2 linked regions of the Homo sapiens genome follow. The protein of the gene in region 1 interacts with the protein of each later gene in a biochemical or structural test. Each region holds a gene or a part of one and is shown on either strand. Other genes may lie near its edges. The genes, in order: ACKR4 and CCL25.

Evidence for each region.
Region 2: the proteins of ACKR4 (region 1) and CCL25 form a complex in vitro, tested with the Homo sapiens proteins (one study listed by BioGRID).

The regions. Positions count from the first base shown.
Region 1 is NC_000003.12:132,590,528-132,605,763, reverse strand, and holds ACKR4 (atypical chemokine receptor 4), read right to left. Parts: upstream 8,495-15,236; 5' UTR 8,441-8,494; intron 5,628-8,440; exon of another isoform or gene 5,376-5,627; 5' UTR 5,367-5,375; coding exon 4,314-5,366; 3' UTR 3,120-4,313; downstream 1-3,119. Other genes in the region: ACAD11 (acyl-CoA dehydrogenase family member 11), read left to right, coding at 559-666, 2,437-2,535. UniProt on the Homo sapiens protein: Atypical chemokine receptor that controls chemokine levels and localization via high-affinity chemokine binding that is uncoupled from classic ligand-driven signal transduction cascades, resulting instead in chemokine sequestration, degradation, or transcytosis.
Region 2 is NC_000019.10:8,043,483-8,059,354, forward strand, and holds the start of CCL25 (C-C motif chemokine 25 isoform 1 precursor), read left to right. Parts: upstream 1-9,277; 5' UTR 9,278-9,281; coding exon of another isoform or gene 9,282-9,340; intron 9,341-9,517; coding exon of another isoform or gene 9,518-9,567; coding exon 9,568-9,640; intron 9,641-10,559; coding exon of another isoform or gene 10,560-10,630; exon of another isoform or gene 10,631-11,360; intron 11,361-12,669; coding exon 12,670-12,787; intron 12,788-12,883; coding exon 12,884-13,017; intron 13,018-14,318; coding exon 14,319-14,438; intron 14,439-15,872. UniProt on the Homo sapiens protein: Potentially involved in T-cell development. Recombinant protein shows chemotactic activity on thymocytes, macrophages, THP-1 cells, and dendritics cells but is inactive on peripheral blood lymphocytes and neutrophils. Binds to CCR9.

The sequences.
Region 1 (15,236 bases):
TAATCAGAGATTCTTTGCAGAGGAGGTGGCTCATACGCAGGAATTTACTTGTGAAGGACAGGGAGAATTTCACTTGAGAAAAAGCCTGGCCCAAGCATATATGTGGAAATTAGAAAGCACAGGGTGTGTTTGAGGAACAGCAGATAAAATTAAGGGCTGGAGTCTCAGTAGGACATGCAATGTTAATTGTTCTCCGGGAGCATTGCAATCACTTCTAGCAGGGCATATTTGCAATACAGCAGGCAAGGTTTAGGCCAGTAAATTTTTTCCTTCAGTTCTAATTGAGTTAGATGTCATTAGTGCCATTCTTCATTGGGATGAACTGAAGAAGAGTCTGTGATTCAGAACAAGTTGAATAAATATGCACCAAATGCCCTGTACTTGTAAATATTTATGACATGCTGTCAGTATAAATTATATTTACTATATATTTCAAAATATTTTTGTTAGCAAACATTTGCTTTAAAAAGATGCATTTCTATACTCTCTACATAAAGTTGTGGATTTCATACTGATAAATTTTCAAATGCAAAACAAATACTCCTTCTTTATGTGTAGACACAGGGAATATGGAGGTTCTGCACCTGTATGGAAGTGAGGAACAGAAGAAACAGTGGCTTGAGCCTCTTCTTCAAGGGAACATTACCTCTTGCTTCTGTATGACAGGTAAATGCCAATCACCATTCTCTCCTTGTGTAGTCAGTCGTCCCGGAGTTATTATGGATGAGCTGAAGAAATACAGGATGTGGTTCTGTGTTTCAGTCAAATTTGCCATTGGCCAAAAATGTGAGTATGTTTATTTTGAGCCTGTTATTAAATTTTGGCATTTTCAAATGTTCAGAAAAATATGATCCTCTCCTTTGTTAGAATATCAGATGATGTTCTCTAGTAGCCTGCTATAGCATTAGTAGCAGAGTAAACTTAGTTTCACAATTTTTTGATGTCATTACTAAAATTGCTATATATGAATATTTAAGATCTTCTTTGCCCTTATGTATGAAATATCTATCTTTGTGATAATTTTATATTGATACTTATAAAATATTCAACTCTTCCATAAACCCAGAAAAATAGAAATTTCACCAGTACTGGACATATGGCTCAAATTATAATCATGTGGGAAAATAAAGGAACATGTCAATAAAAACAGATTTAATATCATTTGTACATAGAAAGCATTAAGAACTCTTCAATAGAAAAAAATCATTGTTTTGTGATTTAGTTTAGAATTATACCAAATTTTGCTTGTCCATAATTTTTAAGTGCTTTCAATAATGGCCAGATTTTATTGTTTTGTATAACATAGCATACATTTATACAGTACTCCTCTTTTATCTGAAGGGGATACGTTCTAAGACTCCCAGTGGGTGTCTGAAAACTGGGATAGTCCTGAATGCTATTTAGACTATGTTTTTTCTTATACATATGTACCTATGATACAGTTTAATCTCTAAATTAGGCATAGTAAGACATTAATAATAACTAATAATAAAATAGAACAATTATAACAATACTCAGAATGGTACACTATTTAAAAATTACAAATTGTTTACTTCTGGAATTTTTCACTTAATATTTTTGGAATGCAGTTGGCCTCATAACTGAAACCTCAGACAGCAAAACTACAGATAACAGGGGACTACTATAATAGCAGAACTGATCTCCGTTTAAATCAGTAATAGGCATTTATTGAATACCTACAGTAGGATGTATTGTCTACAAAGCACTAGGTGGGGTTTACAAAATAAGTAGAATACACAGCCCTCTTTCTAAAAAAGAAAAAAAATAAGTCTTAAGTTTTAGAAACAGAACACATGGGATATCTGAAGGACTCATTTAAAGGGGTGTCATATTAGCAAGTGCAGATTGCTATGATTGAGAGCTAGACAGTTCTGAAGTGCCATGCAATAAAGCAGTTGTCTAAGGGTGTCCCATGGAGAACTTTCTGAAGACCTTAAGTGTTGAACAGGCTTTAAAGAATGCAAAGTATATAAATCAGTGAAGGCATTCCTGATGGAATTTGCAAGGCACATTAGAAATTGCTTAAGACAGTAAACTATATGGGGGGAATCTGTCTTGCCAATCAATATTTAGTACATATCTCCATTGTGAGAAGTAGAAAACAATACTTTTATCTACATTTGCTGATTGGAGAAAGGACTGGGTTGTATCCCAAATCATATATCAGTGAGGAAGCCAAAAATACAGTTCAAAATACTGATCCCCAATGTTCAGTATACTTCATTCATTCACTCATTCTTTCAGTGCACGTTTATTGAATACTGTGTGTAGGTTATGGGAAAAGCAGGGTGGAATGGGGAGTGAAAGGACATTGAAAAAGATAAAGATGTCTTTGTTTTTAAAGTTTTCATATCCTTATCTAAGTCTACTGATGATATCTGCCTGCCTGTAAATTCAGCTTTTGTTTATTTATAGAACCTGATGTAGCTTCAAGTGATGCCACGAATATTGAATGCAGCATCCAACGAGATGAAGATAGCTATGTAATTAACGGCAAAAAATGGTGGAGCAGTGGTGAGTGTTCAGCCTAATTTTTTCACCTAACACACTGATCCTTTGTTCCAGATGCTATGCTAGAATATTGCTATGATACATAGTGATCAGTTTCATGATCATAATTCTTTAAATTCTGCATGTGTAGGCCAGGTGCGGTGGCTAACACCTGTAATCCCAGCACTTTGGGAGGCTGAGGCAGGTGGATCACCTGAGGCCAGGAGTTCAAGACCAACCTGGCCAACATGGTGAAGCCCTGTCTCTACTAAAAATACAAAAATTAGCCAGGTGTGGTGACAGGCACCTGTAATCCCAACTACTCAGGAGGCTGAGGCAGGAGATTTGCTTGACCCCGGGTGGCGGAAGTTGACATGCGCTGAGATGGCACCACTGTACTTCACCCTGGGCAACAAGAGCGAAACTCTGTCTCAAAAAAATGAAAAAATAATTAATTAATTCTGCATGTGAAAGCATTTTCAAACTTAGAAATAGTGGTTGAAAGAAAAAGTAATTTTAAAATAACATATGTTGGTTAGGTGATGTTTAAGAGCAGAAAACATGTCATTTTTTGTAGTTTTAGAGATAAAATTCATTAGTGCATACTATTTTTGACCAATGTAATTGCTAGCAAAATTTAATTTTAGTAGGAGCATATTACATGGATTATAATAATTTACAGCAAATTTTTTTAAAAAAGATAAGCTGTACATGTTAATTAACAATAATTTATTGTGGTACATATTTTTATTACTCAAAAATAAAGTGTTTAAATGAAAATAGGACATTTTATGCATGGGATAATGTATTTTTTAGTCAATCGGCAGTGGTAGACTTGTATAAACAGATGAATTCTTTAGGAAGTTAAGAAATTGGAACCCAGATGAAAATGATAGTCTGAGGATTACACCTAGACTATATATGATAAACCTAACATTTGTCATGATAACCAGTTATTAGTAAGAAAGTTGACATCATAGAAGCAAATTATGTCTTTAGGAACTTACCAGGAATGTTTTGAAAAGAATCAGAAAAGCTTATTATAGTTTGTTTTTTTTTTATTGCTTTTTTGGAGGAGGTGGATTTTATAAAATTACTTACAAATTTAAAAAAAACAGGAAAAAAGATAGTTGGAGTTCTGCTGCATACTTATTCAAGTACTAAAATTATGCAGGGAAATCGTTCTTGTATTAAAACTTAGATAATTAAAAATAATTATAAATGCCTTTTAACATGAACCTCTTTAATAATCTGTTTTAGATGGCCTAACTTATAGCATAGTGGGTTTTTTTTTAACTTGTTTTATTTTGAAATTATTATAAATTCACAGGAAGTTACAAAGATGGTACAGAGTGGTCCTGGGTACCCTTCACCCAGTTTTCCCCAATGGTTCCATCTTACATAATTATACTATAATGTCAAAACCAGGAAATTGAAATTGGTACAATGTGTGTATATAGTTCTGTGTCATTTTATCACTTGTGTAGATTTGTATAAGCACCACTGCAACCAAGATACAAAATTATCACCACAAAGCTCTTCTTCGTTACAGCAGAGTGTTATTCACTTATGCCTGTTACAATTATTTTCCTATATTGTTCATTTTAATTTTCATGTTTTGTACATTTATTATCTTGTTTCCTCTTCTTGGCTTTTATTTCTCCCCCTTCCCCCAACCCATTCTTTATTATAAGTTGCAACCACGGCGTCTGAGATTTGAGTTTCAGAATAATGCAGATGTTTTATTTGAGGGGAAAGCATCATTCATATGTATCCAAGCAAAAGGCAGAGCAGTTTTACCTTTAAATGCTAAAAGTACTGGTTGGCTCTGTAGGACCCTCAGAATCAAAAGGAAACTCCTCCACACTTTGTCTCTGTCTTCTCCAGGACCCATATTTCTTGGCCACTTTCATAACGTAGTTTTTGAAAGATGCTCCCATAAAAACATAAAGGATTGGGTTGAGGCAGCTGTGAAAGAGTGCGATGCTTTCTGTGACTTGGATGGCGATGTCCATGCGTTTGCTCATGTTGCAGCTGGTGATCAGGGAGTAGATGATGTCTATGGCTCGGCAGAACTTGACAATGTTATAAGGCAGTTGAGTGACAATGAAAACTATAACGACTGTGAGCAGAACTTTTAGGGGTCGAGATATTTTAATGTTTGGCATCTTCATGAGTGTCCTTGCTGTGATAAAGTAGCACACCCCCATAATAAGAAAGGGTACTACAAATCCAATGCAGATCTCTAGCATTTGAATCAATGCTTTCATTGATGTTCCTAGGTAGCGGGGGAAAATGGGAATGCACCTAGCATTGTCATTTACTGTATAAAAAACCAGCTGGGGTATGCTCAGCAAGATGGCAGCCATCCAGACACAGAAACAGATGATCCAGCATGGTTTTCCCACTCCTGATTGGCTGGGGACTTTAGTTACTGCCACATATCTGTCTATGCTGATACAAGCCAGAAACTGCATTCCAGAGACAAAGTTTAGTGTGTACAAGGCTGAAGTTATTTTGCACATTATTTTCCCTAAAACCCACCCATGAACTGCATTAACAGCCCAAAAAGGCAGAGTGAATAGAAGGAGTAAATCTGCTACAGCCAAATTCAGGATGTACACATCTGTTTTGGTTCTCTGTTTCTTGTAATAGGCATAAATTGCCACTACCATGGAATTGCCTGCAAGTCCAATGACGAAAACTATTGTGAGGAATACAGGGAGGAAAACTTTTGCAAATTCTCTGACATCTTCTTTGATACAGATCAGTTCATATTGACTGTAGTCATAAGTGCCATTCATTTCATTTTCCTCATAATAATAATCTGTTGACTGGTTCTGTTCCAAAGCCATGGCTCCAATCTAGATGGCAAAGAGAATACAGGATAGATATTTGTCTAAATATGCTTAAAAGGAAACAGTTTTTATCAAGCTGTTTTGTTCTTTCCCTAGAGTATAGCCTGTTGCTGTAACATATGTGAGCCTGAATCTAGCACTCTTTGAAATGCTTTAATGGGAGCCACATTGGAATATGACCCCAAGATTAGTTACTCAAACTTTGCTTGTACAATTCTGTGTGAAAGAGCTTGGATTTGAACAGGACAATAAACATAATGCCCTGGAGAATTTTCTTAATCATTAAATCCTAAATAAAAGTGAAGACTTTTATGTAAAAATGATTTTTAAAATATGAAAATTTAATTAGATTTTAACTAAAAAGAATAAATAGTGTTATAATCTTTACATACATAATTTTGTGAATCGTAAAAGTATATCTACAACAAATTGAATAAAAACGAAAATAGCAAATTACTTGGTTTATTTAAATTAAATTTATTTTTTATTTTGATGTTATTTATAAATTTAATTTAAATAAGTTAAATAAATTCTCTCAGCATTTGCACTAAATTTCACTAGTTGCCTTTTATAAAACAAGATCTCCTTTAGCCAACTTCCCTCCAAAACTGGTCACTACTTGCTTATTGTATACTGTTTTTTAGTAGCACCACTATCTTCTAATCATCTAAGCTGTAAGCCTGCTTCATTCTTGTCTTCTCTCTTACCTTCATCCCTGCTTCCCAATCAGTTCCCAAGTTCTGATTCTGCCTTCCAAGTAGGTCTTGAATCTGTCTTCTCCTCTTAATCTGCACTCTTCCACACATTTGCACAATTCAGCTATTATGTTTCTCACCTAGCCTACTGCAATATCTTTCTTTTTTAATATTTAATATTTAATTTTTTTTTTGAGATGGAGTCTCATTCTGTTGCCCAGGCTGGAATGCAGTGGACAATCTCGGCTCACTGCAACCTCCGCCTCCCGGGTTCATGCGATTCTCCTGCCTCAGCCTCCCAAGTAGCTGGGATTACAGGTACACACCACCATGCCTGGCTAATTTTTTCTATTTTTAGTAGAGATGGGGTTTCACTATGTTGGCCAGACTGTTCTCGCACTCCTGACCTCGTGATCCACCTGCCTCGGCCTCCCAAAGTGCTGGGATTACAGGCGTGAGCCACCGAGCCCAGCCTATTTTTAAATTTTAATCCATTTATTTATTTATTTATTGACCAGGTTATGAGTCTGTATAACTTTTTGTATTTTTGATAGAGACGGGGTTTTGCCAGGTTGCCAAGGCTGGTCTCAAACTCCTGGGCTCAAGCAATCTACCTGCCTTGGCCTCGCAAAGAGTTGGAGTAACAGGCATGAGCCACTGCACCTGGCCAAGCAGTATCTTTCTAACTGATAGCCTGTTGTTACTCCTCCTCAATACCTCCTTTTCAAAAACGTTTTTCTTACTTCCACCAGAGTATTTGATCTCTAAATTGCCAATCTACCTCTCCTCTGTTTTGTTCCTCATCTGGAAGACACATCTCTTCACCTGAAAGCCACAATCCAAGCTCCTTAGCATAACACCCAAGGCTCCCTTCATAATGTGGTGCCATCCATGGCTCCTGCCACCTCTCCCTACTCTGTGTCCACACTAGAGACAGTGATAGGACTAATTTCTCAGCAGTGGGCTGGCACCCACCATGCAGCAGCATCTGTCTACATCATTGCTCATTCTGTTCCTTTATCTACCATACAATTTCCTGCCCTTCCCTGGAAGGGCCAATTCCTACTCAATAAACGCGGATGCGACCTCCCCAGAAGACTTTCCTGATGTATTAGCAATCTCTACATACCCCTCAGAGAACTGATCCATTCTGTGGAAAGGATGCGTTTCCCATACTACCTTGTTCCTCTAGGTTTTAAGTTCCTCAAAGCATGACCTATTTGATTTGTGTTTGTAAATAAAATCTTGTTAATGTGCCTGGCACAAAGTAGCTTCTCAGTAAATATTTGTCAAATTAAAGCTTTTGCCAACAGGTATAAAGCTGTTACTCTAGAATGGATAGATAGTATGCCAGAAATCTTCTATGTCAACATTGTTATTGCACTATGTTGGCTACTAGCACCCCGTAGTATTAAGATAAGCTTGCACAGAATTCGTAAGTTTTGGAATGTATAAAATAATGACTTTCAGTGTTTTTATTATAGTGCTGAATTTTGTTTTCCTTTTTCTTATCCTTTCTATTTTCCTTGGGTTCTTTTTGTCCTCTGAAGTATCTCAAATATTCTTATAGAATCAATAATGAAAATATTATTTTTAAAACAGTGTGCCAACTTATAGTACATTTTCAAAAGAAATGTTCTTATGTTTGCTAACTTTTTTTGAATGAATATAGCAAAGAAAAGAAGGCTCTGAAGAAAGACACCACATAGAAGAATTGCTTTCATTATGTAAAAACCGGGTGCCAACTTTTTTAAATGACTCTTTTTATCATTAAAGTTACTTAAAAAGTTCCAATCTGGAAGACTACTCTGGTCTTCATGTTCTTATGCATTAATTATTAACACAGTATGAACCTTGTTCTTCCTTTCTCTTTCATCAGAAAATCTTGAACCTGATGATAAGAAATAATATGGCCAAATATTATAATATATTAAGGAAGGGAATTTTTAAGTAAGAATTAATCTTACTAAAAATGTGAGTAAAAAAGAGTAGAAATGGAATTATTTGCAGAAATGATCCTTCCGGCAGATATATAGACACGCTTTTAAGTGTCTTTATAATTACCATGAGAATAAAAAAAAAATCAGTACTTGTAAAAGAAAGTGAAAAAAAGTGGTATAATAAAACCTATTTTCTCCTTAACAAAGTTTTACCGACAAGTAATGGCATTTAAAATCGTATTTTCTTCTTGCTATATTAAGATTTTCATTTAAGGTTAAACTGTACAGCTATTTTCAAGTAACCCTTTTTTTTTTTTTTACAAGTAAGCATTTAAACTTTTATGCATCAAGACTCCATCTATATAAGTAAATATACAAGATCTTTGGGCTTAAAAAAATATTCAAGTCAGAATAAGAAAAGAAATAAAGTACCAACCTGTTGTAGTCGGCAGAGAGGAGCAGTCTTGAGTACAGAGTATAAAATCAAATGACCTAACTCCAGCTACTTTTGTTTTCACTTTACACCCCGCCTTTATCTTGTATCCAAGAAGGCTTTCCTGAAATTTAACCTTGTGAGCACTTGATATTTTATTTCCTGTAAAACCATCTGTGAAGTTAAATTCAACTTCTTAAGTGGTTTAGGTTACAAATTTGAGAAAATCCATCTTTTTTCAAAAACTATAGACCTTTCATAGTTTCCACTTAGTCAAAGGGGACAAGAAAGTGCCTGCAGCTGAGCTACTGACTGCTGAACCAGAAGGAGAATCCACCTGAGGGCATCTAGGCAGCACTTGTAGGTAGCATCTAGAGAAATACTCTCTAAAGTTATTTTGCCTAAGGAAGAAAGCAAATATGATTTTAACCAAGGAAAATATCTTTTTGAAGACTAAATTATCAAAGATTAAATTATAAGTAATCATTAGGTATTTGCAATAGAATTTAACATTTTTATGCCACATCATTTAATATTTATTTAAACTACTAGAGTCTTCCTGGCTTCACTGTACTTTCTCTATCCTTGTCCCAGAGTATTTTCCCATGGCTTTAAACTCTCTTGCTTTCTTGTTACCTTTTTTCCCAAAGCTAGAATATGAACCTTCAAAATCCTTCAGTCTGGGAGGCTGTTTATTTTTTCCACATTTCCACACAAGTAAGTTAGAGAAAGAAGAGAAATTTATGCTGATTTGGCCCTCATGGTCTATTTGAACTTGGCTTTCCTCAAATTTGCATGGCAGTTATCTATTTTTTCATGCAAGGCCAGGCTCAGTCTCCACCTGCAGAAATTATTTCAGACCCATGCCATTTTTTCTATTTTTCTCTTTTTTAAAAAAAAACTTTTAAGTTCAGGGGTACACATGCAAGTTTGTTACACAGGTAAACATGTATCATGGGGGTTTGTTGTGCAGATTATTTTATCACCCAGGTATTGAGCCTAGTACCCATTAGTTATTTTTCCTGATCCTCTTTCTCTACCACCCTCTACCCTTTGATAGGCCCCAGTGTGTTTCCCTCCATGTGTCCATGTGTTCTCATCTTAGCTCCCACTTATAAGTGAGAACATGCAGTATTTAGCTTTCTGTCCCTTTGTTAGTTTGCTAAGGATAATGGTCTCCAGCTCCATCCACGTGCCTGCAAAGAACATGATCTCATTCTTTTTTATGGCTACATAGTATTCCATGCTGTATATGTACCACATTTTCTTTGTCCAGTCTATCATTGATGGGCAAATATTTAGGTTGATTCCATGTCTTTGCTATTGTGCATAGTGCTGCAATGGACATATGCATGCATGTGTCTTTATAATAGAATAATTTATATTCCTTTGGGTATATACCCAGTAATGGAATTGTTGGCTCGAATGATATTTCTGTCTTTAGGTCTTTGAGGAATTGCCACACTGTTTTCTACACTCCCACCAACAGTTTGTAAGTGCTCCTTTTTCTTCACAACCTCACCAGCAGCTGTAATTTTTTGAGTTTTTAATAATAGCCATTTTGACTGGTGTGAGATGGTATCTCATTGTGATTTTGATTTGCATTTCTCTAATGATCAGTGATGTTTAGCTTTTTTTCATATGATTGTTGGCGGTATGTATGTCTTCTTTTGAGAACTGTCTGTTCACATCCTTTGCCCACTTTTTAATAGGGTTGTTTTTAATTGTAAATTTAAATTTCTTATAGATGCTGGATATTAGACCTTTGTCAGATGCATAGTTTGCAAAGATTTTCTCCCATTCTGTAAGTTGTCTCTTTACTCTGTTGATAGTTTCTTTTGCTGTGCAGAAGCTCTTCAGTTTAATTAGGTCCCATTTGTCAATTTTTGCTTCTATTGCAATTGCTTCATCATGAACTCTCATAGTAGTCTACAAGATCCCACAAGGTCTGCCTCCATCCCTCATTGTCTCTCTGACCTCATTTCACACTACTCACCCCTTTGCCTACTTGTTCTGCCATACCCAGCTTCTTGCTGTTTGAGAGCATACCAGTCACAATCCTATCAGGGCTTTTGTGCTGGCTCTTCTGTCTGCTGGAATGTGCTCTGTCTTAGTAATTGCAAAGCTCACTTCCTCTTCTCTTTCAAGTCTTTGCCCAATCACCACCAGCTCACTGAGGCAATTCTTCACTACTCTACTTAAAATAACCCTCATCCATCTGGACTCCCAGTCCACCAGACCCATAGCACTTAACATGTTCTAATGCACCATATCATTTATGCTGTGATTGCTGTAATTTGTCTTTCACCCTGTATTAGAACATAAGCTTCATCAGAACAGGGACTTTTGTTTGCTTTGTTCATTGATATATCCCGAGTACCAAGAATAATACCTGACACATAATGACTACTCAAAAATATTTTGAATTAATAAAAACATTCTACTGTCCATTTTGATTATTATCTAACAACTGGTCTGCAACTGCAGCCTCCATAATTATCAGATAATAATCTCTTTGATCTTTCTATATGATACACAATACTGACTTTTAGGCATTTGCAAGTACTATTATTCCTGTCTAGAGCACTCTTCCCACCCTATTTTAGTTCCCTAACTCCTATTTACAATTCAGATTTAGGTCTGACCTTAACATTAATCCAGGAAGCCTTCCATAACTCTTTCAGATTAGATCAGATATACCAGTCTTTTCACTGTATTGTTGGTACTTATTTAAATTTTCTATCTTCCATAGCTATCTTATACCCTGCTGTATCCTCAGCATTTGGCTTGGTACCTTACTCATGGTACCAGCTTAATGAATAATGATTAAATTCATGAATCAATCAACTGATATTTAAGTAACTTATCCTCCACAGACATAAAGTTTAGCAATGGAGCTGGAGTTCTAAATTCAGATCTTTAGTCTATTTTATCATCTTATCTCTTATATCTCTTTATTTTATGATGCCATCTATTATAGAATCTTGATACTCTTTTATAGATTCAAAAGTATCTATCCCTTTCCTTTATTTACCCCACCCCCAACAACCATAAGCTTTTTTGTAAATGGGATTCCTTTATTGCAAATCGGTTGTAATGCTATAATCTTTACATCTTTTGAATTTACACATTGTTTTTGCTAATTCAGACACATACAAAGCCCTTGAGGCATAGGGGATCTCAGGATTGAGCAGCTTCCTCTGGTAGCGTGTGTATGAATGCTGTGTATAAATCATAGTGTATGAATCATGGTGAAACTAGCTGACTGGCTGGCCTTTTCCTGTATTTTCCCTTTTCTCCTGATAGAACTAGGAGAGACAGTGGTAATAGGGAAATTTGACAAAATACGTGAAATAATCATGTAGCTTAGAGGGTAGGCAGAAGCATCACTCACCTTAGGCAACTTTTCAAAGTACTTACTTGATGCTTCTTTAGCTCTCTTCTACTTCTCATATTCCTTAGAACTGACTATGATTCCATTTTGCTGCTTACCATAAATTGGCTCCTACTCTTAACCTCCCTAACATAGCAATGTCCCTTGTTCTTGAAGAATCTCTCTCCCCACACCCTCTTCTCATCCCTCCTCTTGTACTGTCATTTTGCTATGTTGCCCAGCCTGGCCTCCAACTCCTAGACTCAAACAATCCACCCATCCTGGCCAACAAAAGTGCTGGGATGAATCTGTAATTTTGATGAATATTGCCAAATTGTATTCCATAGGGATGGTATTACTTTGTTCTCTACCAATAATGTATAGAAATGTCTGTTTTTCTAAAATATTGTCAATAGAATGTGTTGTTTTACTACCACTTTGCTTTCTAAATGACTTGTAACAAATTCAGCACCCCTTACCTACCCTTGCCAGGCATGTGTGGAATACTGGATAATAAACTGCTTTTGAATGTTTTCATTATTGCTGTACTCCACGTTTATTTGATTAGTGGTAAAGTTAAGCAATTTTAAAAATCTCTTTTATTATTCTTATTTCCTCTTTTTGCAATTGTGTTCTTTGCCCATCTGTATACTGATTTTTAGGTGTTCTTTATAATTTAGGGAGCTAAGTATTGCATACATTTTGTCATAAATGTTGAAACATTCCCCCCCAATTTTTTTTTGCTTTTAAATTTTATTTTCTAATGTACAGCAGTTTTATATAGACAAACCAATTGATCTTTGTCTGATTTTGATTTCATTTATCATTTTTAAGTTTTAAAATCCTTTCTCACCCAGAGATTTAATAAATATTATATTATTTTTCTTCTAGTTTTTTTATGTCTTGGTTTTTTTTAATTTTCAACTCTGCTCTATTTGGGATTTATTTTGATCTAACCATTTTCTATAGTAACAACAGTAATAGCAGCAGCTTGTAACATTATTACTTAATTCTTATTATTTAGATGTAAACCTAGAGATGGATTCAGTGAATTTTGAAGATTTCCCTGTTAAAAATAACACACACTCTAAGAGAACACATGGGATTTTTTTTCTTTAACTGTGGGATTGTACAATGAACATCTTTTTTCATATAAGGGAAATTTTATTGTAAAATAGTACTTACTCCAATTTGAATTGTTAGTATTAAAGCTAAAACCAAATGAAGTTCAGGTGTTCTACCTCAGAAATTCTATGTTGGTAGAAGAAACGGCCTTGAGAATTTGTGGATGGCTATCTATGCTTCATAGTATGTAATTGTTTACATCACTTTCTTAATTGTTACAAACCACACTATACTCAAAGGTCATGTTTTTTTATCCACCTATCATCTCTCCTTTTGTTAGAAAATGATTTTGTGGGTAAAAGCCTAAGAAATTAAAAATCATCAACTAACATCAGGGAGATGTAATTTTTAGCCTGACTTAATCCTGGCACTTGAACAGCCTTGAAATACCACAGTGTCTGGATTAAAAACAAAATTACTTTATCTAAGCCATCTGTTTTCATTCATGAAGGCCTGTGACACAGCATATATGTTTAAATGTTCTCTGTTCTATTCAGATTTCCTCTAATATATTTTATTTATGACATTGGGTATCTTGTTCATTAACTAAAATGACACAAACAAGCAAAACTCTCTATAAAAGAAGGTTGTTTCAACTGCTGCACTTGCCAAATTCTGCTTGTAGCTAAGGGGAGATGATATCTTTGGGAAGGGTTTTTCTCATTTTTCTGAAACATCATTGTTAAATACAAATATTTCAAATTCTACAAACTATGTATTCACCCTTACTTCCTCTACTTCATGATGACAACAGACATCCAACTTAAAAATTGTATTTTTTAGAATATTAATTGTTCTCCATATAAGATTGAGGAAGACAGAATCAAAGAATTATTTGCCTTACTTCTTGAGTTTCTTCAAAATTTACCTGGTATCGGAAATCTATTGGGCATTTATATAAGGCTGTGGCAACATTTTTGTTTCTTTGCTTTGTTTGGAGACAAAATCTCACTCTATTGCCTAGGCTAGAATGCAGTGGCATGATCACGGCTCACTGCAACCTTGACTTCCCGGGGCTCAAGCAGTCCTGCCATCTCAACATCCCGAGTAGCTGGGACTACAGATGTGCTGCACCGTGCTTGGTGAATTTTTAAATTTTTTTGTATAGACGAGGTGTCGCTAGGTTGCCCGGGCTGGTTTCAAACTCTTGAGCTCAAGCGATCCTGCCACTTCAGCCTCCCAAAATTCTGGGATTACAGATATGAGTCATCATGCCCGGCCAACATTTTTAAATGATAGAAAGAATGAGGTAAGAAGTAATATTGGGAAATATTAGATACAAAATTATATATTCTGAATATTCGAAAAAGAGGGCTTTAGACCAGGGTTCAAAGGAATTAGAAGATTTTACTTCAGCTCACTGATGCTGGATAGCTAGCATCAGTGAAACCTTGAAAGATTTACCCAGATGTTCTTGATTGCCAGAATGGAAAGTAGAGAAAGAAAAATATCTCTGAAAATGGGCACATAGACCAATGGAACAGAATAGAGCCCAGAAATAAGGCTGCTCACCTATGACCATCTGATCTTTGACAAGGCTGACAAAAACAAGCAGTGGGGAAAAGACTCCCTATTCTATAGATAGTGCTGGGATAACTGGCTAGCCATATGCAGAAGATTGAAGCTGGACCCGTACCTTACACCATATACAAAAGTTAATTCAAAATGAATTAGAGACTTAAATGTAAAACCCAAAACTATAAAAACCCTGGAAGATGACCTAGGCAATACTGTCCTAGACATAGGGGTGGGCAAAGGGTACATGACAAAGACACCAAAGGCAATCACAGCAAAAGCAAAAATTGACAAGTGAGATCTAATTAAACTTAAGAGCTTCTGCATAGCAAAAGAAACTATCAGCAGAGTGAGCAGACAACCTACAGAATGGAAGAAAATATTTGCAAACTATGTATCTGACAAAGGTCCAATATCCAGCATCTATAAGGAACTTGAACAAATTTACAAGAGAAAAACAATCTCATTAAAAAGTGGGCGAATGACATGAACAGAAACTTTTCAAAGGAAGATATATATGCAGCCAACAAAATATGAAAGAAACCTCAATATCACTGATCATTAGAGAAATGCAAATCAAAATCACAATGAGATACCATCTCACGCCAGTCAGGATGGCTATTATTAAAAAGTCAAAAAATAACAGATGCGGGTGAGGTTGTAGAAAAAAAGGAACACTTAATACACTGTTGGTGGGAGTGTGAATTAGTTCAACCATTGTGGAAAGCAGTATGGAGATTCCCCAGAGAGCTAAATACAGAACTACTGGCCGGGCACGGTGGATCA
Region 2 (15,872 bases), on another chromosome or scaffold:
ATTACAGGTGTGAGCCACTGCGCCCCATCCTGTTTTTATTTTTTTCAGAGGCAGAGTCTAACTGTCGCCCAGGCTGGAGTGCTGTGGTGCAATCATAGCCCACTGCAACCTTGAACTCCTAAGCTCGAGCAGTCCTCTTGCCTCAGCCTCCCGAATAGCTGTGACAACAGGTCCACACTACCATGCCCTACCATGCCTGGGCTGTTGAATCTCCCTGCCCTCACCTCACCCTCTGCGGCATCTTCCAGATGACCTTGGCAGAGCTCAGATGCAGACCTGACCACAACCCTCCCCTGACTAAATACATCTATTCAGGGTGGGTGCGGTGGCTCATGCCTGTAATCCCAGCACTTTGGGAGGCCAAGGCGGGCGGATCACCTGAGGTCAGGAGTTCGAGACCAGCCTGGCCAACATGGTGAAACCCCGTCTCTACTAAAATTACAAAAATTAGCTCTGCGTGATGGCACGGGTCTGTAATCCCAGCTACTCGGGAGGCTGAGGCAGGAGAATTGCTTGAACCCAAGAGGCAGAGGTTGCAGCGAGCCGAGATCACGCCACTGCACTCCAGCCTGGGCCGCAGGACTCTGTCTCAAAAATAAAAATAAAAATAAATAAATCTTTTCGGCAGCTTCTTCTTGGCCTCTGGATGAAGGTCACCCTTCTGGGCTTGGCACGTGAGGCTCCAAATAGCTTCTCCCTGCCTACCTCATCTTCCGCTATCCACCCCCGCACCTCCTGCCCCAGATACTCTGCACTTGGCAGTTCCCTCTAGCGTCCTGCCCTGCTGGTCTCTGACTAACACGAGGTTGTCCTTCAGGTCACCATTCAGCTGCAGGTCCCCCTGGAGACAGGTGGGATGCCCTTCACATCCCCACAGCCTGATGCAGATGTTCCTCCAGGAATGTCTGATCAGGAGACATGGCAGCCTAAGGCAGAGCAAGGTGGCTCAGGCCTGTAATCCCAGCACTTTGGGAGGCCAAGGCGGGATGATCCCTTGAGCCCAGGAGTTCAAGACCAGCCTGGGCCACATAAGGAGACCCTGTTTCTACAAAAAGTTACAAAATTAGTCGGGCATGATGGCATGTGCCTGTAGTCCCAGCTACTTGTGGGGCTGAGGCAGGGGGATCGCTTGAATCCAGAGGTCAAGACTACAGAGAGCTGTGATCATACCACCGCACTCCAGCCTGGGCAACAGGAACATTATCTCGGCCAGGCACAGTGGTTCATGCCTGTAATCCCAGCACTTTGGGAGGCCAAGGTAGGCGGATCGCTTGAGGTCAGGAGTTCGAACCAGCCTGGCCAACATGGTGAGACCCCATCTCTACTAAAAATACAAAAATTAGCCGGGTGTGGTGGTGCGTGCCTGTAATCCCAGCTACTGGGGAGGCTGAGGCAGGAGAATTGCTTGAGCCTGGGAGGCGAAGGTTGCAGTGAGCCAAGATCGCACCACTGCACTCCAGCCTTGGCAACAGAGTGAGACTCTGTTTCAAAAAACAAACAAACAAACAAACCAAAAAACAAAAAAAAACCCAAAACCAAAAACAAATCAGAGACATTATCTTGAAAAAAAAATCCTCCTATTAGCTGTGAGGGCCACTTGGAGAGTGGTATTATCTGCCTTCTGTCTCCAGCTCTCTGCACATCACTGGGCACCTGTTTTTACTTACTTAATTAATTTGTTTAGAGACAAGCGACTTAGTCAAGTTACTTGGTCAAGCAATGTAACCTCTCTCAGCCTCGGTTGATTGTTCTTTCCCTATAAAGTAGGAATGAATTTTAACCTAATAAGGTTCTTGTTACCTCAAGCCACTCTCTTTAAAGGCATCCACTAGCTGGGCGTGGTGGTACATGCCTGTAATACTTAGGAGGCTGAAGTGGGAGAATCACTTGAGCCCAGGAGGTGGAGGTTGCAGTGAGCCGAGATCGCACCACTGCACTCCAGCCAGGGTGACACAGTGAGACCCTGTCTCAAAAAAAAAAAAAAAAAAAAAAAAAAAAAACGGCATCCAGCCCATCCCTAGTCTCTTCCAATCACACCAGCATTGGTGACAGTGATCCTCATCTGAAAATTGTTTTTAAATTTTTTTTAAATTAAAATTTGTTTTTCCTTGTCAGCAGAAAGTCACATCTGAATGTCTTGCTTCATTACTTGCTGCTTCTCTTGTCTGCAATGCTACTAGGCACTGAGCACGTGGGACTGACTCCTTCACTGCTTGTCCCCAGCACCCAGCTCAGTGCTGGGCACATAGAGGGTGCTCAATAAGTGTTTATTGAATGAATAACAAATGGTCCCACATAGATGTTCCATGAGGCATCTGTGACATCAACATCATCATTTTTTTTTTTTTTTGAGATGAGTTCTTACTCTGTTGCCCAGGCTGGAAGGCAGTGGTGCAATCATAGCTCACTGCAGCCTTGAACTCCTGGGATCAAGCAATCCTCCTGCCCCAGTCTCCTGAGTAACTGGGACTATAGATGCCGGTCACTTTGCCTGGCTATTTAAAAAAAAAAAATTTTTTTTTTTTTTTGTAGAAATGGGGGTCTTACTATGTTGCCCAGGCTGGTTTCGAACTCCTGGGCTCAAGTGATCCTCTTGCCTTGGCCTCTCAAAGTGTTGGGATTATAGGTGTGAGCCACCACGCCCAGCCAGCGATCATCATCTTTGATAGTTGCAATGTGTCGGCTTGCTCACTGCTGTCACCCTGGGGCACCCTGGGGCCCCGCATGTGGCTGGAACATAAGGGATACTCAGAAAACAGATGTGGAAAGGGTGAGTAGAGCTCAGCACGTTCAAAGAGGGACTCAGGACCCTATGGGACCCTCTCCCCAAGGCCTGCCACCCTCTCTCTCCATGCAACCCCTCCTCTAGCCCAAGGCAGCAGGGCCAGGATCAGGCAGTCACTCTTCCCAGCTGTCTGGCCCCCGCACATCCTGCAGGGGCAGGACAAGTACAAGGATGAAAGCCAAGGTCATGAGCTCGGTAATACCAGTAGTCTGAATCCCTCTGGAGAACCACGGCCCCTGCCCAGGCCACTGCTACAGCTGTCCCCTGGAAGACAGAGGCCTCAGGTTAGCCTGGGGTGGGGATCCCCTCAGAACTGACTTTCCAGGAGCCAGCAGAGCCAGCTACATCAGGGACTTAGGGTTCAGGTTAGAGTTAACCAAATTCTCGAACATCAGGCCAAGGGCTTGCAAGACATCCTGGAAAAACCCTTCTTCCTTCCTCCTCCTTCTCCTCCTCCTCCCCATCCTCCTCCTCCCCCTCCTCCTCCTTCTCTTCCCACTCCTCCTTCTCCTCCCCCCCCTTCTCCTCCCCCTCCTCCTTCTCCTCCCCCTCCTCCTTCTCCCCCTCCTCCTCTTCCCCCTCCTCCTTCTCCTCCCCATCCTCCTTCTCCTCCTCCTTCTCCTCCTCCTTCTCCTCCTCCTCCTCCTCCTCCTCTTCCTCCTCCTCTTCCTCCTCCTCCTCCTCCTTCTCCTCCTCCGGTTGCTGGGCAACCACTATGCATCTGGACCAAAGCAAGAGGCAGCTGGTTTAAAGACACACATAGACTGAAAGTGAAGGGAGGCAAAAAGATATTCTTTGAAAATGAAAACCGAAAGAGATCAGGGGTAGCTGTACTTGTATCAGATAAAATATTTTTTAAGTCAAAACTCTAACATGAGAGGAAGAAGGTCATTATAGAATGAAAAAGGGGTCAGTTCATCAAGAGGATAAAACAATTATATATATATGCACCTAACATCAGAGCACCTAAATATATAAAGGAAATATATATAAAGGAAATATGAACAGATCTGAACTGCAATACAGGAATAGTACTGCACTTTCAACAATGAACACCAGCCTGGGCAACAGGCCACAAAATTAAAAATATACATTTGTGGGTTGTGGTGGTGCATATCTGTAGTCCCAGCTACTTGGGAGGCTGAGGCAGGAGGATTGCTGGAGCCCAGGAGTTCAAGGCTGCAGTGAGCCATAACAACATCACTGTACTCCAGCCTGGTGGACAAACTGAGACTCTGTCTAAAAAAAAAAAAAAAAAAAAAAAAGGCAACGAACAGATCCAGGCAGATAATCAGTAAGGAAACATTGGATTTGAAATGCACTGTAGATCAAATGGAACTAATGACATATGTAGAACATTCCATTTGACAGCAGCGGAACGCACATTCTCCTCAAGTGCACAGGGGACATACTCCAGGATAGATCATGTTAGACCACAAAGCAAGCCTGAACAAATGTAAGATTGCCAGGTGCGGTGGCTCACACTTGTAATCCCAGCACTTTGGGAGGTCAAGGCGGGTGGATGACGAGGTCAGGAGATCGAGACCAGCCTGACCAACATGGTGAAACCCCGTCTCTACTAAAAATACAAAAAATTAGCCAGGTGTGGTGGTGGCGGGCGCCTGTAGTCCCAGCTACTTGGGAGGCTGAGGCAGGAGAATGGCGTGAACCCGGGAGGTGGAGCTTGCAGTGAGCCGAGATGGTGCCACTGCACTCCAGCCTGGGCAACAGAGTGAGACTCCGTCTCAACAACAACAACAAAAAAACAAATGTAAGATTGCGATTGTATCAAGTATCTTTTCTGACCACAGTGATACGAAACTAGAGATCAATAACAGGAGGAATTCTGGAAAATTCACACGTGAGAATTCAACAACACTCTCCTAAACAACCAATGTGTCAAAGAAGAAATTAAAACGAAATTAAAAAATATCTTGAGGCCAGGTGCAGTGGCTCACGCCTGTAATCCCAACACTTTGGTGGCTGAGGCAGGAGGATCACCTGAAGCCAGGAGTTCAAGACCAGCCTGGGCAACATAGTGAGACGCTCCCCCCATCTCTACAAAAAATAAAAATAATTAGCCAGGCATGGTGATGCTCACCTGTAGTCCCAGTTATTTGGGAGGCTAAGGTGGGAGGAACACTTGAGTTGGAGGCTGCAGTGAGCTACGATTGTGCCACTGCACTCAGCCTGGGTGATAGAGGGAGATGTTTCTAAAAACAAAATAAAACAAACAGAAACAACAACAACAAAAAACTTGAGACAAACTGAAATGGACATACAATATACCTAAACCAATGAATGCAGCAAAAGTGGTTCTAAGAGGGAAGTTTATAGCAATAAATAAATGCCTACATAAAAAAGAAGAAAGATCTTTCAAATAACCAAATTCTCTTTAAAAAGAGGTAACTGGAGGCTGGGCATGGTGGCTCAAGCCTGTAATCCCAGCACTTTGGGAGGCCAAGGCCAGCAGGTCACTTGAGGTCAGGAGTTCGAGACCAGCCTGGGCAACATAGTGAAATGTAGTCTCTCCTAAAAATACAAAAATTAGCCAGACATGGTGGTAGGCGCCTGTAGTCCCAGCTACTCGGGAGGCTGAGGCAGGAGAATCGCTTCAACCCGGGAGGTGGAGGTTGCAGTAAGCCAAGATCCTGCCACTGCACTCCAGCCTGGGCAACAGAGCAAGACTCTGTCTCGAAAAAAAAAAAAAAAAGAGGCAGCTGTGGGTACAACAGGAGTCCAGGCCTGGCAGACGGGGCTCCTGGGGTGTGGATTGCTCCCTACAAGACTCGTGACCATGCAGGGCAGTGGGGGCCCATCAGAAGCCAAGAGTCTCATCAGGGACCTGGAGGCACCAGAGTTCAGGAGAGCTGCAGGCAGCTGGGGTCTGATATGCAAAAGTGACTACAGGAGGACCCCCACTTCTGCCCATAGTGTTCTCCCAGTGCCCCTGAGCCTTTGCCGATGACCTCCCAGTCATCTGCTCTATGGCGCTTCCCCATTGGGGGACTGTCCTTTTCTTCACAGTATTTAAGAAATAAAAATTAGATTTTCCTGGCCAACAAAAAAAGTAAGTAACTTGGCTTCTCTGACCCTCAATCTCCTCCTTTGCACAGTTGGGCCAATGGTGAGCACCCAGGAGCATCCTTCATCCCACTAGAGGTGCCTGCCACTGGGTAGGGCAGATGTGGTGGTGGCTGGTGCAGGCTTCCCAGAACATCTCATCGCCCCTGCCCACCACCTGGCCACTGCAACCAACTGGGCTTGTCTAGAAAGACACCTGCCTACCCACCCAACCCTGCAGGCTCTGGGGTATTGGTCTCTGAATTTGGCTGAGCTACAGGATGGAGACCACCCTCAACTGCTCCCATCATCAGAGGTGCAGAACAGAAGTCGGTGTGGGGGGCACTTGTTCCCCCCAGCTGTGCTGATTTCACACTGGCGGAGAAGAGGACCCTTGCTGATAGCGGACTGCTCTTTTATTTTTTTATGAGATGGAGTTTTGCTCTTGTTGCCCAGGCTGGAGTGCAATGGCAAGATCTTGGCTCACTGCAACTTCCACTTCCTGGGTTCAAGCAATTCTCCTGCCTCAGCCTCCCAAGTAGCTGGGATTACAGGTGCGCACCACCATGCCCGGCTATTTTTTTTTTTTTTTTGTATTTTTAGTAGAGATGGGGTTTCACCATGTTGGCCAGGCTGATCTCGAACTCCTGACCTCAGGTGATCCGCCCGCCTCGGCCTCCCAAAGTGCTGGGATTACAAGTGTGAACCACTGCTCCCGGCCGATAGCGGATTACTCTTAATGCCCCCAGCTGCTGCAGGAGTGGAAGAGGCCAGTCCAGCCCCGACTGTGAAGGTCTGGCCTTTACTCAAAGCAACTGTGGTCCTCAGAACTCCGGGATCATCCCGTTTCTTGCTCCAACCCCTGGGTCCCAGGTCCCCAGCGCGCCCACCCCAGTGCTCCGTGCTTGCTGGTCCCTGGAGGGCCCCCTTACTGGGAACCCTTCCTCCCCGTGAAGGCTGCCGGCGGGACAAACAGTGAGGGGTGAGGCAGGGAGGGAGACTCACGTTGGGGACCTCCCCCAAGTCTGGGTAACACCGTCTTGGCCGCGGCCCGCGGGTTGGGAAGGTAGGGGGCAGTGAGCCGTAGCGGAGAGGCTGGCCCCAGCCCGCCACGCCGCTTCCCCACGCTCGCAGCCACGCGGAGCCGCGTCCTGGTCCAGCCTCACCCACCCAGAGCAAGAGGCGGAGGAACTGGAACAGCGCCCCGGCCCGTGGGCTGCCACTGGCCGCAGCAACGGGACGGGTGAGAGCACCTGCCCCCGACGCGTCTTAACTGCTCTGGTGGGGCGGGGCTGACCGTGCAAGCCCCGCCCCAGTCTAAGCCCCTCCTACAAAGCCCGGCCCCTTACCATAAGCGCCATCTGTCAGGCTCCGCCCACTGTCTTAAATCCCACTCACTCTGCCCTGCCCCTGACTCGGAGCCATATAGCAAGCCCCGCCCATAGCCATAAGCCACGCCCACCCAGCCCTGCCCCTGGGCTCTAAGTGTCATTTATCTAGTCACGTCCCCGGCTAGAAGCCACACCCACCAGGCCCGGCCCCACCTCTAAGCCCCACTCACCCGGCCATGTGGTTTGGGACAGGGAAGTAGGCTAGGGGCCGCCGCCTCTGGGCTCCCAGTGGAAGGGGAGAAATGAGAAAGGAGTTTAGGATGTGATAAATACCCACAGAGGTCAGATGTAGCTATGGATGCAGGCGATAAAAAGTTTAAAGCAATCAGCTGTGCGGCCTCTGCAGCGCTCCTTTCGCCCTCCCTAATCTTCACCTCGTGTCTCCCCCAGTCCCTGTGTCCTGGCTGGGTCCTGCTGCCCCAGGGAAAGAAGACATGCCTTCTCCCATCCTGGCTAACATGGTGAAACCCCGTCTCTACTAAAAATACAAAAAATTAGCCAGGCGTGGTGGCGGGAGCCTGTAGTCCCAGCTACTCGGGAGGCTGAGGCAGGAGAATGGCGTGAACCCGGGAGACGGAGCTTGCAGTGAGCCGAGACAGCGCCACCGCACTCCAGCCTGGGCAAAAGAGCAAGACTCCGTCTCAGAAGAAAAAAAAAAAAGACATGCCTTCTCGGTGAATGTTGCTTTGCTTCCTGAGGGCATGGCTACCCGGGGCTCCTGGCTTTTCTTCCAAAAACAAAACATTTCTTCCATTTTTTCTTTTTCTTTTGTTTTTTTTTTTTTTTTTTTTTTTGAGACAGAGTTTCACTCTTGTCGCCCAGGCTGGAATGCAGTGGCCCAATCTCGGCTCACTGCAACCTCCGCCTCCCGGGTTCAAGCGATTCTCCTGCCTCAGCCTCCTGAGTAGCTGGAATTACAGGTGCCCCCCCACCACACTCGGCTAATTTTTGTAATTTTAGTAGAGATGGGGTTTTGCCATGTTGGCCAGGCTGGTCTCGAACTCCTGACCTCAGAGGATCCGCCTGCCTCGGCCTCCCAAAGTGCTGGTATTACAGGTGTGAGCCACTGTGTCCGGCCACCGTTTTTTTTTCCATTTTTTGAGACAGGGTCTTGCTCTGTTGCCCAGGCTGGAGTGCAGTGGCATGATCACAGCTCACTGCAGCCTCAACCTCCAAGGCTCAAGCAATCCTCACACCTCAGCCTCCTGAGTGGCTGGGACTACAGGTATGCACTACTACGTCAGGCTAATTTTTTAAAAAATTTTTGTAGTGACGCAGGTCTCTCTATATTGCCCGGGGTGGTCTTGAGCTCCTGGGCTCAAGCAATCCTCTGGCCTCGGCCTCCCAAAGTGTTGGGCTTACAGACATGAGCCACCATGCCTGGCCTAGAGAGTTTCTTTCTTGTTGGGGTTGTTCACCGGTGGGAGGTGCACCATTGTGCCGTGCTGACTATATTCATAGAGTTATGTAACCATCACTCTCATCTAATTTCAGAACAAAAGGAAACCCATACCCTCTCACAGTCAGTCCTTCATTCTCCCCTCCCCCCATCCTGTGGCCACCGCTAATTTACTTTCTGTTTCTATGGATTTGCCTGTGATCACAACCAGAGGATTTCTGTGACATGCTAAGTTACCTAACCATGGTGTGGAAGGAGAGGGAAATGGAGTGAAGTTGGGGACCCACCAGGGAACAGGTGGCTTGAGGGCGGGGGGAGCATGAAGGTAAGGGCTTGTTTGGGGGCTCAAGGCAGTCTGAGCCTTGTTCGCAGGCAGCCAGTGTCCACCAGGTGTGTGCAGGTGAGGGAAACAGGGGAAAAGGCCCTTTCTGGAGACAGTAGGGGTGCTGGCTGGGAGGCCTGGGATGGGGAGTGGGGAGGCAAGGGGGCCTGTGGGTCGAGGTTGGAGCTTGCTGTAGAAGAGGGAGAATTCCAGAGGCTGAGAGTGCAGGTGGAGAGGAGGAGGAAGGGAGGAGGGCGGGCAGGGGGTGGCTGGGTGGGGCTCTGTCTATAAAGAGTGAAGCTCAGCGTGTTGGTCCTGCAGATGGGACAGCTTGGCCTACAGCCCGGCGGGCATCAGCTCCCTTGACCCAGTGGATATCGGTGAGTCTTTTCCTTGAACATGACTGAGATGAACAGCTTTTCCCTCCAGCACAACTTGTTCCTACTTTATACAACCTCCTTCCCTTGCCATATGCCTGGGGCTTAAGAGGGGGGATGTTCCCAGTACCCACTCCCCTCCTCTTCCTCAGTCCTTACCACTTCCCTCCACGACCCCAGGTGGCCCCGTTATTCGTCCAGGTGCCCAGGGAGGAGGACCCGCCTGCAGCATGAACCTGTGGCTCCTGGCCTGCCTGGTGGCCGGCTTCCTGGGAGCCTGGGCCCCCGCTGTCCACACCCAAGGTACTGTGTTCGGCAATGCCTACCACCAAGTGCCCCTCTCCCCATGCCCCCACCCCACCCCTTTTGTCTCTTATCTCCTCCGGAAGTCTCCCCAATCCCATCTCCACTGAATTCTCCCGCTCCTGACATGCAGGAACTCCTGGTGTTTGGTTAGCTCTTGGGATGGGGTCGGGGAGATGGAGAGTCCCCAGTTCCTTCTTCGAGAGCCCCATGGAGTCTTTTGCAAGACTCCTAAAGATGTGAGGGAGCAGAGGGTGGCTTCCAGCTGTGGGCAAAGCCAGTTACTGCCAGGGATGTATTGTAGAATCCTAATCCTGCCGAGCCAGGGGTGGGGTTGGAGATCAGGGCCCTGGAGACTGACAAGAGTGGATTCCCATCCTGGTCCCTCCATGCAGTCCAGCTGAGAGTTAGTTGCTCCTAAACCATTTTTTTTTTTTTTTTTTTGAGACAGAGTCTCACTCTGTCACCCTGGCTGGAGTGCAGTGGCGCGATCTTGGCTCACTGCAACCTCCGCCTCCTGGGCTCAAGCGATCCTTCTGCCTCAGCCTCCCAAGTAGCTGGGACTACAGGCGTGTGTACCATGCCCGGCTAATTTTTGTATTTTTTAGTAGAGATGGGGTTTCACTATGTTGGCCAGAGTAGTCTCGATCTCCTGATCTCAGGCGATCCGCCTGCCTCAGCCTCCCAAAGTGCTAGGATTACAGGTTTGAGCCACTGTGCCCGGCTTCCTAAACCTTTAGGAGCCTCCGTTTCCTCAGCTGCAAAGTGGGAATCTAAAATTCCCACTGCATGGCTCTGACTTGAGGGTCCAGTGAGCTCATGCCTGCAAAAGACTAGGCCTCATGTCTGGCGGCGGCAATAGTAACTGTTCCTGTTATTAATAGGGAACTCTTTCCTTCTTCCCCACTCCCTACCGCAGAGCAAGCACTTGAGGATTTCAGTCGCCAAAGGACAATTCCTGGGCCTGGGGTGTCCCCACGGGAGCCCTGACACTGGGTCCTACATCCTCTGAGTTTCAGCAGCTGGCCAAAGCAGGGTCCCTGGCTGGGCGGCAGACCCAGGGTCCCACCCTCCTTCCCTGTCTGCCCCCACCTGACCCACCTGCCCCTCGGCTGGGTCTGATGGGTCCAAGTCCTTGGCCTTTGCCTGGGAAGGGGGTTGGGCTGTGGTCTGATTGTTTTGCTATCAGAGCCAGGCCCAGCCCAGCCCTTCGATCCTGGCCTCCAGCCTTGGGAACTACCTGCCTGGCACTGCAGTCCGAGGTTCCAACAGAATGCGCTGCCCCTTGCCCTCAGAGGCCGCGGTTGGGAGACACCTGGAGGGCTCGAGTCCTCCCTTTCCCTGCTCCTGCTGGGCTGGGCTCTGCAGGGACTCAGACTCGGCCTCTGGAGGTTAGTTCTGGCAGAGGTGAGATTGCAGAGAACTCCAAAGGCCATTTAGGCAGAGAATTGCACCCCAGCTTCCTCCACTATCTCATCAGCTCATCCTCGGCTCATTCATTCCACCTGCTCATCCCCCCAGAACTTTCTGGCATCACCTCCTCCTCCTCTGGGCACCCCCCACAGTGCCTGTGCTTCCCCCTTTCTGCAGAGATCAGTTTCCCGGGAGCTCCCTGAAGACAACACTAGGTCTAATTCATCTGTGTGTTTCATCTCTGCTTGTCTAGACATTGACATTTACTGAGAGCTCTTTACTTTGTATTAAAACAATTTTTTGTTTGTTTGGTTGGTGTTTTGTTTTGTTTCATTGAGACAGAGTTTTGCTATTGTCGCCCAGGCTGGAGTGCAATGGCGTGATCTCGGCTCACTGCAACCTCCACCTCCTGGGTTCAAGTGATTCTCCTGCCTCAGCCTCCAGAGTAGCTGGGATTAAAAGCGCCCACTATCAGCCAGGCACAGTGGCTCACGCCTGTAATCCCAGCACTTTGAGAGGCCAAGGCGGGTGGATCACAAGGTCAAGAGATCAAGACCATCCTGGCCAACATGGTGAAACCCCGTCTCTACTAAAAATACAAAAATTAGCTGGTCGTGGTGGCGGGCGCCTGTAATCCCAGCTACTCGGGAGGCTGAGGCAGGAGAATCGCTTGAACCCGGGAGGCAGAGGTTGCAGTGAGCTGAAATTGAGCCACTGCACTCCAGCCTGGGTGACAGAGTGAGACTCTGGAAAAAAAAAAAAAAAAGGCGCCCACCACCATGCCTGGCTAATTTTTGTTTTTTGTTTTGTTTTGTTTTGAGACGGTGTCTCACTCTGTCGCCCAGGCTGGAGTGCAGTGGCGCGATCTCGGCTCACTGCAAGCTCTGCCTCCCGGGTTCACGCCATTCTCCTGCCTCAGCCTCCCGAGTAGCTGGGACTCCAGGCGCCCACCACCACACCCGGCTAATTTTTATATTTTTAGTAGAGACGGGGTTTCACCGTGTTAGCCAGGATGGTCTCAATCTCCTGACCTCGTGATCCGCCCACCTTGGCCTCCCAAAGTGCTGGGATTAAAGGCATGAGCCACCGCGCCCGGCCTAATTTTTATATTTTTTAGTAGAGACGGGGTTTCACCATATTGGCCAGGCTAGTCTCAAACTCCTGACCTCAGGTGATCCACCCACCTCAGCCTCCCAAAGTGCTGGGTTTACAGGCATGAGCCACTGTGCTGAGCTGCCAATCAGCTCATTTTTAGGAGGGAAGAACTTGGCTGGGGAGGGGTGGTGTTGGCCCCTCCTCACAGTGCACCTGCACTCCGAGTCACCCTTTTCCCCAGAGCAGGAGTAGAGGTGGCCTTGGTCCGTTCATTTGCTGGTTCCACACCCTTCCCAGCCGGGACCCAAGGGTCCTCTCCAACCTCTGGCTGTCCCAATATCCAGGGATAAGGGGTGAGCCAGGAGGCTTTTTCTTTCCTAAGGCTGTTCCTCAGCCTCTGCCGGGCCTGGAAGGGTTGTGGTATGAGCAGACAGGTATGCAGACAGGTGCCCTTGCCTGTGGCTGGCCCTGCCAAGTTAACATGCAAGGGTGCGAGTATCTGGGCGGCTGTGTGGTTGCAGGTGTCTTTGAGGACTGCTGCCTGGCCTACCACTACCCCATTGGGTGGGCTGTGCTCCGGCGCGCCTGGACTTACCGGATCCAGGAGGTGAGCGGGAGCTGCAATCTGCCTGCTGCGATGTGAGTGGGGCCGTGGGGGCTGGGGGGGTGGGGTGCACACACAGCCTTGCTGCCAGCCTACACCCTAACCTGGGCACCCCCCTCTGCTCACCACAGATTCTACCTCCCCAAGAGACACAGGAAGGTGTGTGGGAACCCCAAAAGCAGGGAGGTGCAGAGAGCCATGAAGCTCCTGGATGCTCGAAATAAGGTTTTTGCAAAGCTCCACCACAACACGCAGACCTTCCAAGGTGGGCAAGACCTCTGCTGGGCATCTAGGGGGCCTGCCCTCCCTGCCTGCAAGCCCATGTGTGGTTCAGACCCCGAGGGAGGGAATTGGAGACCAGAATACTGACACCTGCCTGAACCCCAAACAAAGCCAGTTGCTGGTGAGTGGGGCACCAAGTGAATGACCAACTGATTGAGTCATTGTCCAGTTTTTGTTTCTGGAGATGGGGTCTTGCTCTGTTGCCCAGGCTGGAGTGCAGTAGCATGATCATAGCTCACTGCGGCCTCAAACTTGTGGGTTCAAGCAATCCTCCCACTTCAGATTCCCCAAGTAGCTGGGATTACAAGTGTGTGCCACCAGTCCAGCTCTTTTATTATTATTTTGAGACAGAGTCTTACTGTGTCACCCACGCTGGAGTGCAATGGCGCCATCACAGCTCACTGAAGCCTTGACCTCCCAGGCTCAAGCAATCCTCCTACCTCAGCCTCCTGAGTAGCTGGGACTACAGGCATGCTCCACTAATCCAGCTCATTGTTATTTTATTTTTTATTTTTATTTTTTGAGATGGAGTCTTGCTGTGTCATCCAGGCTGGAGTGCAGTGGCACGATCTCGGCTCACTGCAACCTCTGCCTCCTGAATTCAAGCGATTCTCCCGCCTCAGCCCCCTAAGTAGCAGGAGCACAGGCCCACGCCACCACGCCTGGCTAATTTTTGTATTTTTAGTAGAGACGGGGTTTCACCATGTTGGCCAGGCTGGTCTCGAACTCCTGACCTCAGATGATCTGCCCGCCTTGGCCTCCCAAAGCACTGGGATTATAGGCATGAACCACCATGCCTGGCTCCAGCTCATTATTATTATTATTATTTTGAGACAGGGTTTTACTCTTGTCACCCAGGCTGGAGTGCAGTGGCACAATCACATCTCACTGCAGCCTTGTGTTCCTGGGCTCAAGCAATCCTCCCACGTCAGCCTCCCAAGTAGCTGGGATTACAGGCACACACCACCATGCCTGGGTAATTTTTTATTTTCATTTTGCAGAGACAGGTTGTGCCATGTTGCCCAGGCTGGACTTGAACCCCTGGACTCAAGCAATCCACCTGCCTTGGCCTCCCAAAGTGCTGGGACTACAGGCATGAGCCACTGCACCCAGCCAGTCCAGCTCTTTTAATCAGGACACTTTCCACTGGTACAGATGGAAAGCTCAAGCACATGGGAGACTCATTGGCTTAAATAACCAGTCAACAGCTTCAGGCTCAGCTGGATCCAGGAGCTCAAAGGATGATGGCAGAGCTCTTGCTTATTTCTCTCTCCATTTCTCCAGCAGGCCCTCATGCTGTAAAGAAGTTGAGTTCTGGAAACTCCAAGTTATCATCGTCCAAGTTTAGCAATCCCATCAGCAGCAGTAAGAGGAATGTCTCCCTCCTGATATCAGCTAATTCAGGTAAGGACTCTTGGTCATGTGACTGTCTCCCATCCATCACCTTTGCTGAGGGTTGAGGGCTCGTGATTGGCTCACACTGGGACAGGAGATTCACCTCCAGGACCCAGGAGAGGTGGTTGTGCGGTCAGTGCCGCAGATTCACAGGGGAGGGTCCTCGGTGGCTGTCCACTGCTGTGACTCAGCGCAAAGACACCACAGCAAGTGAGAAAGTAAAGCCCCAGGGGAGTGGCCCAAGAGCTCCAGGGCCCCCCAAAGCCAGCAATTCTCCAGCAGGGACCGGGTGGTTGTCCTGTAATTCTACTGAATTCTGACATTGTGTGTGTGTGTCTCTCTCTATATATACATATAAAATATATATAAGTAAATATATAATATATAAACATATATAATATATAAGTAAATATATAATATATAAATATATATAATATATATAAGTAAATATATAATATATAAATATATATAATATATAAGTAAATATATAATATATAAATATATATAATATATAAGTAAATATATAATATATAAATATATATAATATATATAAGTAAATATATAATATATAAATATATAATATATATAAGTAAATATATTATATATAATATATAAATAATATATAATATATAAATACATATAATATATAAAAATAATATATAATATATAAATATATAATATATAAATAATATATAATATAAAGTATATATAATGTATAAATAATATATAATATATAAATATATATATTTATTATTATTTTTTTTTGAGATGGAGTCTCACTCTGTTGCCCAGGCTGGAGTGCAGTGGCGCGATCTTGGCTCACTGCAAGCTCCACCTTCCGGGTTCACGCCATTCTCCTGCCTCAGCCTCCCGAGTAGCTGGGACTACAGGCGCCCGCCACCACGCTGGGCTAATTTTTTGTATTTTTAGTAGAGACGGGGTTTCACCATGTTAGCCAGGATGGTCTCGATCTCCTGACTTCGTGACCCACCCGCCTTGGCCTCCCAAAGTGCTAAGATTACAGGCGTGAGCCACCGCGCCCAGCCTAAATATATAAATATATAATATAAATATATAAATATATAATATAAATATATAAATATATAATATAAATATATGTAATATATAAACATATATGTAATATATAAATATATATAATATATAATATATATAATATATATAATGTATATATTTATATATAATATATAAATATATATAAATATATATTATATAATATATAATATATATAATATATAATATATATAATATATAAATATATATATTATATATAATTAATATTTTTTTATGGCAGGGTCTCACTCTGTTGCTGAGGCTGGAGTGCAGTGGTGCCATCTCGGCTCACTGCAACCTCCGCCTCCAGGGTTCAGGCGATTCTTGTGCCTCAGCCACCCAAGTAGCTGGGATTACAGGCATGCATCACCA